Regions from separate parts of the Homo sapiens genome. Here all the other regions are linked to region 3. The links come from fine-mapping of genetic effects on plasma protein levels. A gene starts in region 3. Each other region holds a variant in brackets. All regions are shown on one strand. Distances are from middle to middle. Region 1 overlaps C4BPA (complement component 4 binding protein alpha). Region 2 overlaps C4BPA (complement component 4 binding protein alpha). Region 3 holds the start of C4BPB (complement component 4 binding protein beta).

Evidence for each region. A credible set is the group of variants that fine-mapping cannot tell apart. PIP is the posterior inclusion probability: the model's chance that the variant is causal. The UK Biobank Pharma Proteomics Project read protein levels with antibody pairs (Olink). The fine-mapping took linkage between variants from a reference panel, not from the people measured, so its PIPs are less certain.
Region 1: its variant is the best candidate, but not a certain one, in a credible set for the plasma level of the C4BPB protein (UK Biobank, PIP 0.84).
Region 2: its variant is the best candidate, but not a certain one, in a credible set for the plasma level of the C4BPB protein (UK Biobank, PIP 0.78).

The regions. Positions count from the first base shown.
Region 1 is chr1:207,129,112-207,133,348 of GRCh38, forward strand. It overlaps C4BPA (complement component 4 binding protein alpha), which reads left to right. Exons shown (of 12, transcript NM_000715.4): 8 at 2,435-2,629. It overlaps LOC107985251 (a long non-coding RNA gene), which reads right to left. Exons shown (of 3, transcript XR_007066838.1): 3 at 1-1,163. Among named protein-coding and RNA genes, the nearest start is that of C4BPA, 27 kb to the left of the region's middle. The variant T/C (reference allele first, on the strand shown) is at 2,444.
Region 2 is chr1:207,108,549-207,112,794 of GRCh38, forward strand. All of the region lies in intron 1 of C4BPA (complement component 4 binding protein alpha), which reads left to right. Among named protein-coding and RNA genes, the nearest start is that of C4BPA, 6.4 kb to the left of the region's middle. The variant T/C (reference allele first, on the strand shown) is at 1,748.
Region 3 is chr1:207,086,070-207,090,281 of GRCh38, forward strand. C4BPB (complement component 4 binding protein beta) reads left to right here and starts at 2,791. Exons shown (of 7, transcript NM_001017365.3): 1 at 2,791-2,877; 2 at 3,413-3,520. The coding sequence starts at 3,463.

The DNA of each region.
Region 1 (4,237 bases), 43 kb after region 3:
AAAGAAATGGAAATTCTAGAGTTGAAAAACACAGTAAGTAAAATGAAAAATTCAAAAGAGGAACTCAACAGTAGATTTGAGTTGGAAAAAGAATCAGTGAATTTGAAGATAAATTGAGATTATGCAATTTGAAGCACAGAGATGAAAAGAATGAGGAAAAATAAATGGCATCAGAGAAATGTGGGACACCATTAAGTGTACCAACATATGTATAATGAGAGTCCCAGAAAGATGAGAGAAAGAGAAAGGAGATAAAAACCTATACAAAGGAAAAATGGCTGAAAATATCACAAATTTGACCAAAAAAAAAAAAAACCCAAACAAAAGAACAAAACAACACATTAATCTACATATCCAAGAAGCTTGTTGAACTCAAGTAGGATATTGCAAAAAGGTCTAGACCTTGAGACATTATAATCAAAATGTTGAAAACCAAGAATGAAGAGAAAATCTTGAAAGCAGCAAGAGAAGAGCAACGCATCATGTACAATGTAACCCCAGTAAGATTAACATCTGATTCCTTATCAGAAAGAATGGAGGCTAGAAAGCAGCTAGATGACACATTCAAAGTGCAGAAAGATAAAAACCTCAACCAAGAATCCAACAACATATTTTGCACTTACATATATTACAAACTGCACAATAAATTTTTATAATTATTGTTTTATATAATTTCATGTTTCATGTCTTTTATAGTAGCTGAGAGAAGAAAGGAGGGCAAGTATATATTTAGAGAGTTTATTATGTTAATCTTCTTATTCTTCATTTCTGGCGCTCTTTATTTCTTCCTGTAGATTCAAGTTACCATCTGGTGTCATTTCTGTACTATAATACAGCTTTGTTCCCTCCTACCTTTCTTGTGATGTTATTGTCAAATATATTGCATTTCTGTATGTTATAGGCTTAATAATGCAATTATATACATATTGTTTTATGCAATTGCTGTTTAAATCAGCTAAGAGAAGGAAGGAGTAGTAATATATATTATACTGTGGTTCAAATTACTGACATAATGACCTCTGCTGATGCTCATTGTTTTACTGTGTGGATTCAAATTACCGTCTGGTGTCAATTGCTTTCAGTCTGAACAATTTCCTTTAGCATTTCTTGTAAGGATAGCCTTCTAGTAACAATCAGATACCACTTCACATCCAGCAGAATGGCTGTAATAAAAAAGATAGACAATAACAAATGTTGGTGAGGATGTGGAAAAATTAGAACTCTCATACACTGCTAATAGGAATGTAAATTGGTGCAACCATTTTGGAAAAGAGTTTTTGCAGTCCTGCTGAAGTTTAACCATGGAGTTACCATATGACTCTAATTACCCTCCTGGGTATCTACCCAAGATAAATGAAAACATATGTCCACACACAAAAATTTTACATGAAGATTCATAGCAGCATTATTCATAATAGCCAAACAACCCAAATGCCCATCAAATGAATAATGAATAAACAAAAAGTGGTTTATCCATAAAATAGATTATATCATTTGGCAATAAAAATGAAAAATAAAAAGTACTAATGTATGCTACAACATGGATGAACCTTGAAAATATTATGCTAACTGAAATAAGCCAGTCACAAAAAGTACATGTATTGTGTGATTCCATTTATTTAAAATGCTCAGATTAGGCAAATCCATAAAGAAAAAAATAGATTAGTGGTTGTCAGGACCTAGGGGGAGGTGGAAATAGGGAGTGACTGATAATGAATATGAGGTTTCTTCTTGGGTTGATAAAAATATTCTGAAATTAGTTAATGGTGATGGTTGCACAACTCTGTATATACTAAAAACCATTGAATTGCACATTCTAAATGGGTGAATTTATTTGTTGTGACTTTAATCTGAATAATGCTGTTAAAAAAGAACTTTTATATTCCATTTCAATAATCATCCAACGTGGTAGATGTTTGCATTATATTTTCATATCATATGAATCAGTAGCATTGGGAAAGAGAGAAGAGGACAAGATCCAAGGCCCAGGCTCAAAAAATGTTTGGAGCTTGGTTTTTTTCTTGCCAAGTCATTCCTGGTATCATCTGGATGAGGGGAACGGCTCCTGTTTATTTTCCCCAATCAATCAGTAAACATAGTTAGATTTGTTTGTGACAGTTTTCCTGCCATGCTTCAGTTCAGAAACTAAAATCTCTGAAATGTAAAGAAGAGGAATGAGAATTAAAATTATTATACTTGGCACAGCACATGGAAACCACTTGGGAGTGCCCTTAGTGAAGAGCCTCTCTGGAGGTGTGCACATTTGAGCGAATGTCCATGTGTGTTTTCTGGTGTGGTTGATACATCAGGCCTTGCAGGCTGGTTCCAGGCTGAATGAACGTATGACCCCCTTTGATAGGACAGGCTTATTGACTGCTGTGGCAGCCCTAGTAATAGCGTCCTTTTGTTCTTCTTCTTCTTCTTTCATGAGTAGATAGTTGTA[T/C]TAATTTACCAGACATTCCACATGCTTCCTGGGAAACATATCCTAGGCCGACAAAAGAGGATGTGTATGTTGTTGGGACTGTGTTAAGGTACCGCTGTCATCCTGGCTACAAACCCACTACAGATGAGCCTACGACTGTGATTTGTCAGAAAAATTTGAGATGGACCCCATACCAAGGATGTGAGGGTGAGTTTTTGTTTTTTAATATTTTTGTATATTAAATGTCCAGTATGTGCTAGGATTCTCTACCTTAAATGAATATAATTTTATCCCTCACAACAAGTTTAGAATTAAGTTAATTCAACAGATTAGTAAACTGTTAGTGCCAGAAGGGGACCATAAACATGTTACAGTTTGAGGCACTGAGAAATTGTAACCTTTCCTTATCCCAGTTCAGAATCAAATGAGAAGTAGACACAGAAGTCAAACATTATGCAGATTATGTATTAGTTTTCTTACTGGTAAAACTAGAATGGAGAATACAGCTCAACTATTGTCAGAGTCAGGCTTCCTTCATAGCCCTTACCTCCCCAGTATGGGCTTTGGGGTGTTTGGCAGAAGACAAGTTTGTGAAACAGTCATGAGCGTAACCAGCTGCAGGGTGACTTGTGTCTCATGTCTCTTGAACCATGAGATGGCAGGGCTTCCTGATCTGCCTCTAGAAGACAAATCCTGACTCGTGACTGAGCATTCTCACTTCGTAAGGATAGAAAGGAGACTTCCTCCAGTTTCTCTGGTAGGAGACGCACCTCTTTTATTTGTGGAAATGAGTGAGGGACTGAACGACAAGTGGATACTATATTATGAGCCTCAGTGGAACAGACAAGAGAGGAAGAAAATGCTTTCTTCTATCCATCTATCAGAACCTTGCCACTTTAGAGGTGAAGACACTGAGGCCAAGAATACAGGGAATTTTATGCTGCATATCAGAATTTCAACAATCTGTGAAATGCATAAATAATGAAAAGTGGTAGTTTAGATCAACCTGTCAGAAGATTACTTATTTCATATTAAGACTTAACAAAGTTTAATTGCAGTTATTCAGACTCATTTTGGGGAAATAGAATAAAAGATTTTAATAAAAGGACTGAATTAAAAATATACTTAATAAAACTTACCGCCATTACTTAAATAACAAAAAGTATTGCTTATAAATGTTTAAAAACCTCCTTTATAGTTGTATTTAGGCTAGGTGCGGTGGCTCCTACCTATAATCCCAGTACTTTGGGAGGCTGAGGCGGGAGGATTGCTTGAGCCCACGAGTTTGAGACCAGCCTGGGCAATAGAGTGAGACCCTTGTCTCTACAAATAATTTAAAAAATTAGCGGGATGTGGTGGCACACGTCTGTAATCCCAGCTACTCAGGACGCTGAGGTAGGAGGATAACTTGAGGCTAAGAGGCCAAAGCTGCAGTGAGCCGAGATCATGCCACTGCATTCCAGCCTGGATGACAGAGCAGGACCCAGTTGTTTACATTTATTTGATCCCCTATGATCTTATTGATTTAATTATTTAATAAAGAATATTTTTAACCATTTTAAAAGCAGAAGTGAAGTAGTATTTATCCAAGTTATGAAACCTGATCAAATGTGAATTTAGACTCATGACTTACATATTTAAAAGTATTTTCTGCACTGCAAAGCATTTCATAAATATTATTGTTGTTTTAATATCCAAACCATATGATTGCTGAATATTTTTATTATAATTCCTAAACAAATGAGCACTGGAAGTGTTTGAGTATGTCCAAAAGACCCCATTTTAATACTGGTCGAGTTACTGACATGGAGAATG
Region 2 (4,246 bases), 22 kb after region 3:
GAATTTAACTAGTTAGCAACCAGAGTAAAGAAGACAAGCCTGAATAGCTTAAAACTTACACGGAGGAAGGAATAAGACAGAATAAAATAATTATTAACAATTGAATTTATGGAGCATGGAAGTTTTTGCATGAACCAGAGACAATTAGGCCCAGAGGTCTGTGGGTGATTCATTTTATTTATTTATTTATTTTTGAGACGGAGTCTCTCTGTCGCCCAGGCTGGAGTGCAGTGGTGTGATCTCGGATCACTGTAACCTTTGCCTCCCGGGTTCAAGCGATTAACCTGCCTCAGCCTCCTGAGTAGCTGGGATTACAGGCGTGCACCACCACACCCAGCTAATTTTTGTATTTTTAGTAGAGACGGGGTTTCACCATGTTAGTCAGGCCGGTCTTGAACTCCTGACCTCGTGATCTGCCCGCCTCAGCCTCCCAAAGTGCTGGGATTACAGGCGTGAGCTACCGCGTCTGACCTGTGGGTGATTCAGGTATGATGATTAAAGTTATGGATGTGGATGACTTCCTTTCAGGAAGATAGTTGAGGGCAAGGGAAGACAAAGCCCCAGGACAGCCCCAGAGGCCCCAGCATTCCTCTGCTGTGCATGACACATTAGATCTCACTGTACCAAAGGCCACAGTGGAGACCAGATCCAGGGCTTCTAGCCGGAAGTTCAGTGGATGCTCCTCTGCACTGGGGTGTAATTAAAGTCCCTGGTGATGCAACCATTTATTGCAATTTTAAATCATTATGATGACAATGTTTTGACATCCAGGAGTTTGGCTTCTGACAGAGTGACATTCCAATGCCAATTCTATGAAACTCTTCCCTATAATTTCTTTTGAATGTTTACTATGTGCTGTCCACACACCATGCCAAGCCCCTCTCAGAAATTCCGAGATATAATTACAGTTATCCTTCTTATTTTATAATAAAGGAAACTGAGGCTTAGAGGAACTGAGTGTTTTGTCCATGGGACTCGGTTCCCATGTGGTAGAGCCAGGACGCCAACTCACATGTTCTGGGTGTGACTCCAGAGCCCATGCCCAAGGTCTTGGCCACACTGTCCTCCTCTGTCCCCAGCTCTGTGGCCATGGCCTAGGTGTGAGGATGAAGTAAAGGGAGTGAAATAACTTCCTCATCACAGTGTAGGGTCTGCATTTGTCTGTATCTCCTGTCATAACCTGTGGAAGGAGGAGAACCAGTTTTTGCCTACTGCTTCCCTCCTTCACTGTCCTCCCTTGACTAGTTGATGATATGATGACTTCAGTTTAAGAATGGAAGAGCCTAGAGTAAAATTATTTGGGCCAGTTCTCATTAAAATACAGGTGTTTGCCTTGCTTTAAAATCAGGTAAAATCAGTCCTTAACAAAGCATACACTGTAAGGGGAGACACTGATATGGCACAGTACTACTTTTCTTTGGAACACACGTTATCACTAGGAGCTTTTGGATTTAAATTCAATGCACATTTTGTGAGCACTTTAACTTCATGAGGCGCAGGCTAGGTACTATTGTGGGGCAGAAATAAATGGGAGCATACTCTGTCATTTCAAGGATCTTGTGGTTTAGTGGTGAAGGCAGACTTCAGATGTGAGTTACAGACCAAGTCCGAATCAGAGTTATAAATACAAAATTGTACTTGGTATGTGGAGGCTTGCTTGGATAGGAGGGAATGCTGGAGAAGGGACTGGCAGAATGAGTAGGAATTAAAGAGGAAAAAGAGAGAGGGTAGATGATGTGGACAGGAA[T/C]GGGAGATAGGAAAGTGCTGGGAATGGTAAGGAATTCTGGTTGTCCAGGATAGCTGGAGCCTAAGGGGTCAGACCACAATACCGAAAAGTTAGTCATCAAAGCCAATTGAGTGAATGCCAGTACTTGAAGGATCAGTTCATAGAAATAAATTTGCTGAATTTATCAAAGTATCAATTTATCTAACATTGTTTCAAGAAACATTCATTTTGGAGGCCAGGCATGGTGGCTTATGCCTGTAATCCCAGCACTTTGGGAGGCCGAGGCGGGAGAATTGCTTGAGGCCAGGAGTTTGAGACCAGCCTGGGCAACATAGTAAGATCACATCTCTATTACAATTTTAGAAAAGAAAAAGAAAAAGAAATCATTTTGAGTATTCAATGAGTATAAATATATCCTTTTTGAATGTAGCTAATGAATACATATTTTAGTGGCATTTAAGATATTTTTGTTCAACTTCTTGAAGCTAATGATTTAATCTTATGGTTGTATTTTTGTAAATATAGTCATGAATATTTTTCTGAACATATTCAACATATATATTTTTCTTGTGAATGTAATAACAACTGCAACAATTCCTAGGGGAAATTTCCACTTTCTACTCTTATCCTTTTGATTTTTCATAGTCAATTCTATTTTGCCACCCCACTGGTGTTTTTAATCTCTTTCTTCAATTTCACTGAAATTCAATAAACACAACAAATCTACTCATTGTCAAAAATTGAAGAAACTTTTTCCCATAGTTTTCATAGTTCATAACATATCTTATTGGGTGGGAGAAATTTGTCACATTTTATGAATTTCACAGATGATGAGTGAGGTGGTTTTCATGATATGCAACCTGCCTGGCTCTCAGCTGTCTCCAGCTTCACAAGATTGTGAGGGCAGAGAGGAGCATAGAGTTAGGAAGGAGGATAATGGGAAAAAAGAGGGGGAAACTGAGTAGAAAGGGGAAGTATGAAGTCCCAGAATGTTGGTCCTGGCTCCTCCCAACCTCTCTAGACCACCTGGATTCATTCAGTACAAAGTCTGTGAACACATTTCCAGTAAGTGACTACAACTGGTAAATTGCTCGTTAGGTGAATTTACGTATTGGCAGAATTGCCCCGGTGGGGATGTATAGAGCTCATGGGACAGGACGTGTGTGACATGGGGTTCCCACAGCTGACAACAGGTGGAGGGATGGCTTCATCAGAACTAAGTTTTAGAAAGAGAAGAAGCTTATGTGAGTCTTTACTCAATGAAGAAATTAGACCCCACAAAGAATGAAGGGCACTATAAACTTCCCTTCTCCCACACAGTTTCTCTCCAAGATGTTTCAGTCCCACATTATGTAAGACTGGCCCATATTACTGAGACCAGCTTTATGTTGAGGGACTGAACATTACCTTAGATATACATTACATTACAGTCCTACATTATGTGGGACTGAAACATCTTGGGGAGAAATATTGATTGAAGGGACTCCCTTTACCTAAATGTATATGGGCTTTGTATGAATTATGGATGCACGAGAGCGTCCAACCATCTGGATCTAACAAAGATGTCAAAGTAAAGGATGAAATTCACTATTTTATGGGAGTGAATTTGGTTAACTTCATATATTCCTTTGAAGACAAGGACTATTTCTTTTCTTAATTTTTTATTTTTATAGATTTACAGTACAGAGATTTCTTAAAAAACTAAAAATAGAACTCCCCTTTGATTCCCACTATTGAGTATCTACCCAAAGGAAAGGGACTTTTTCCTAACACAAACTTAGGATATGTTGTGTTCTCCAAAGGGAATGGGAAGTGGTGATGAAGATTAAAAAAAAAAGTCCTTACTAATTTTGCTTTAAACAAGTCTATATAGTCTGATTTAAAAATAAAAGTGCATTTGCCATGTATATTTTTCATATATATATATGTGTGTGTGTGTGTTTATGATCATTTTTCAAAACTGCAAATTGCTTCATGGTTTATTGCCTTTGTCAATAGTTCTCACAAGGAACTCCCAATACTTCTATACGGCGACTCAACTCTTTCTCTCTATCCCATCATTTTCCTGCCTTTTTGTTTTTTTTTTTTTTTTTTATGTTTGTACCTTTCTTTTAAGTCCTCTGTCATTTCTTTGTTAGATCATCTGGCCAATTGCAAGTCTTCTCACTCAACCTCCCTGTTTCTTTCCTCTAATCCCTTTAATTTATCTTGTGCATGTCTGCCATAATGATCTTAAAGCATAATAATTATGTCATTCCTCAGCTTAAAAACAAACATTCACATCAAAAACAAGCACTTTTATTCCCCAAGGAGTAAAGTCTATGAATTTCCTAAACTTGACGTTTACATCCCACTCAGACACATCTGTAAACTGTCCCTTCCCCATCTCAGACATTCAGCCAAATTGGAATATTATCTATTGTTCCCTCAACATGCCCTGCATCCATTCTGCAGTGTCTTCAGTATACCTAGTGCAGATGCAGTCTCCTCTGCAAAGCCCACTCCCTCCCTCCACTTGGA
Region 3 (4,212 bases):
GGTGGTGAAGGGGGAGGTGTTGGGGAGAGGAGGAGGGAGGCAGAGAGAAGAGGAGAAATTCCTCTGTCTCTGTCTCTCTCTGATTCACTCTGTCAGTGTCTCCTCTGTCTGTCTTTTGTCTCCATCTCTGTCTCTGATGCTCTTGCTCATCCTGTGGGGAGAGAGGGCTGAGGAGGGAAGAGTGGGATTGGGGCGGGGGACAATGGCAGTGCCAGGTGGAGACTTGTCCTTCAGAGTCCCCAGACACCCCTTCCTAAGCATCTCTATCTCTCTGCATCTATCTCTGATTCTGCCTCTCCCCCAAGACCCACCATATTACTCTCTTTCTCTCTCTCAATCACTCTCTGTTTCTTTCTTTAATCTCTAATTCTAAAATCCAAAAACCTTTGAGACAAAGTTTTCTTCTAATTCATTTGACAGAAAAAACCTGACCCAAACTTTGTGATGCTATTTATTGTCTCTATAGAGCCCACTTAGTGTGAATATTTTTGTATTTTTATATTTTATGGAGAAATATTAGTAAGACAATAGTATAAGTGATATGGTTTCTAAAGTCCTATAGTTCTGAATCTGAAGTAAGCCATTAAGATGAAGAATTACTTGCAATTATTTCCTGTAATACATGTTCTATTTTATGTCCATATTTATGTAGGGCTAAACTAGATTTTCCTTCCTTTTTAAAATAATTTATTGTACAAACATTCTGTATATAAATCTATAAAAGATACTGAAGAACATGCATTCCTCAAGAAGTAGAACATGGGGTATGTAAATAAAAATTATTCAAAGCTTAGGATTAGCAAAAAGAGATCACTGGAGTAAATGCTCAATGGATTCCTGGGCATTTTCTAGCAGGCCCTCTGGAGATGATCTCTGACTGACTTTATTTAAAGTTCTTTTAGAACTCTTTAAGCATAGAGGTTAATTTGCAGTAAATTTATAGGAATGCAAATGACTCTTATCTGAGAACAATGCAAATGATTCCTGGTTATAGTAGAGCAAATATATTTTGTCCATTTTGTTTTAATTACTTTCCACCAGGTAGAAAAGCTAATTGCAAATATTACAGTTTGTTACTCTGTAGGATATTAACCAGTTTTGTATCTATTGGAAAGGTCACTTCAGAATGCTTTTGACTGACTGACTATATGCATTCCTATTCCTCAAATTCTTCTTTGAACCAGTTGTAGCATCTGAATGTTTCCTCATTAATTAATGAGTTGAATTAAATCTTTGATATATATTCATCTTATATTTACTTGTGTCATATTTTTAACTTTTTGAAAATCATGTCTTAGAGGGTGCTTACACTATAGGAATTTGCATATTAGTTAAGAAAAGATAAGACATAAAAAATCATAAGGCAGCATGTGATAAATGGCAAGTGATCATATGGATTTTGGGGGCTGTGGTAGAGTTTCTGGATGACAGTTTTTTTCATTTATTTCTGCATTACTTTCATTCATTTAACAGACAACTGCTTTGCAATATGAAGCACCGTGGAAGGGAATACAAATACAAATCAGACACAAACCCTGTCCTGGAGTTAGCAGTTTCCTGTGGGAATAAAGGGGAGGAAAAAAACACCTTTCCTCTACCATATTGTATTCAGTGGCTGGGACCTGCAAATTAGACTAAGACAGATTAACAGGAGAGAAAATTCTATTTATACATGTAACTTGAGTACATGTGGGAAAACTCAGTGATAAGTAATTCAAAAAGTTGGTTAGAATTGGGGCTTATACATCATCTTAATAGGTGAAGGTGGGGAGAAGAAAGGCACTTACAAGAAAACAGATTATTGGCCGGGTGCGGTGGCTCATGCCTATAATCCCAGCACTTTGGGAGGCCAAGGCGGGTGGATCATTTGAGGTCAGGAGTTCAAGACCAGTTTGGCCAACATGGTGAAACCCCATCTCTACTAAAAATACAAAAATTAGCCAGGCGTGGTAGCGCATGCCTGTAATCTCAGCTACTCGGGAGACTGAGGCACAAGAATGGCCTGAACCTGGCAGGTGGAGGTTGCAGTGAGCCAAGATCATGCCAAGACACCATCTCAAACAAAAAAGAAAACAGATTATTTTTTGGAAAGGCAAGTGGGTTTTCAGGGGAAAAGTAGGAAATTAGAAAGTTTTGTGATAATGTTTGTGTATATAAGTACGAGTGTTCTTTCTGTCTCCTTCAAGGCCATGAAATTTCTCTGGAGAAGGAATTTGAAATATGTTTTACTCATGCTCTCCCCTCCAGGATAGACCTACCCTGAAAAGGAATTTATGGCAACCTTATCTCCAAGGTTGCTGCCTTTAGTCAGATAAGGAAAGCCCCCAAAATCTCTGTTCCTTTCCATATCACTGAATCTCAAATATCTTCAGCTTAAAAGAATCTTAACGCCAAATATTTGGGGGTGGCATATCCTGATTCCTTTCAGGAGAAAGACATAGATTAATCATCACAAACAGTAGTAATGGATGGAGAAGAGAAGAACATTTGCAACCTTACTGTGTCCTTAATGCTTTATTATTCTATTAAAACCTGAAATTTTGTAGGAATTTTTCCCCAGTTTCATAATTACAGCACAGAGAACCAACCAAGGGTTATAGTAGTCACAAGCAAGATGATATGGGATCCCTCAAAACAATTTTACATGCCTTAATTCCTGAGACCAAAGCATTCTCCTCACCTCTCTCTTTACTCATTTGGTTAACTCTGGACTCAGGCCAAATCCTGTCCCTGGAAGAGCCACAAAGTAGGAAGCCTGGGTACAGGCCTGGCAAGCGAGAACAATGTGTCACTGCAGGACTTTGGAGCTCTCAGCTTTGGAGTCAGTTAAGACCAGTTCCTTGCTGGGAAGCCCTAACTCTGGAGGGACAGAGACAGGTAAGGTTAGTTTACTTCCTTGAGCTTTCGTCTTCAGTGCTGCTTACAGCCTTAGGATATCTGGTATTCAGGAAAGGAGGATGAGGTAGCATTCAAAATTGTGTTCTACCTGGGCAAGAACCAGGGATTGACAGCCCGTTCTCTTTCCCCAGTGCTGGCCAGAGTTACAGAAGTTGGACTGTAAACATTGGCAACTATTGACAGAAGTCAAGGTCATGGCAAGACCATTTGGCCCATGTTTGTTGGGGAAGGATAAGCCTGCGTTTCAAAAAGACTGGTCAACTGGATTTGCATTCCCAGAAACCAGGAAATTTCTGAAACTGAGTTTTAAACCTGGCAACTCTTTTACCATCCCTTTGTATTTTTGCAGTTCCTCCCTATACCAGCTTCCTTACAGCTGTTCTGATTTCCTGTCGTAAGATTTTTTCTTTTCATTTTCTCCAGGGAGGGTAAATCAATATAACCTCTTCTCTAGAGAGGAGGTGGTTAGGTTGGTCTTAAGCAGTGTTAGAAGATCTATTTTTTTTCAAACCAGGTGTCTGAGCTGGGTGAATTCCAGCCTGGGGAGAGGACTTTGATCACCAGATGTTTTTTTGGTGTGCGTGCTGTCTTATGGTTGCGTGGCGAGTTTCTGCTTCAGATGGTACGTATGCTTTCCTTCAACTCAGCTTACAGGCATTTGGTGTCCTTTTGCGGTGTTTTGAGGAACTCTGTCTAGGGCTTTAAGGAAGTTTACATTTATAATATCTTTATTCTTCTATTGAAAAATCTCAAATTGGCCTAATGCTCTGCACTCAATAGGAGCTTAGTGTACATTTAATGATAACCCTGATCTCTGAAGTGGGTGGTTACTGTTTTTTTACTTTCCCTTTCTGTTCTGGGAGCAAAAAGAGTACCAATTTCAAAATCCTGGGAGGTCTTACTTGTTATAAACTCCAGGATCGCTATTTGTGTAGGGGACTATTTGTTTAGAAGTGGACAACTTGTGGTTGAATTTGAGTAAAATTCCTGTTATACTTTTGAAAATAAAACTTCGGAATTCCGGCCGGGCGCAGCGGCTCAAGCCTGTAATCCCGGCACTTTGAGAGGCCGAGGTGGGCGGATCACGAGGTCAAGAGATCGAGACCATCCTGGCTAAGACAGTGAAACCCCGTCTCTGCTGAAAATACAAAAAATTAGCTGGGCGTGGTGGCGGGTGCCTGTAGTCCCGGCTACTTGGGAGTAGAATACAGAGTACTTGGGAAGAGCACAGGAATCAGGATCAATAATCCAGCAAAAAGACATGAGAATGGGGAAATCTAATAAGGGTTCTCTGACAGCACATGATATGCCAAG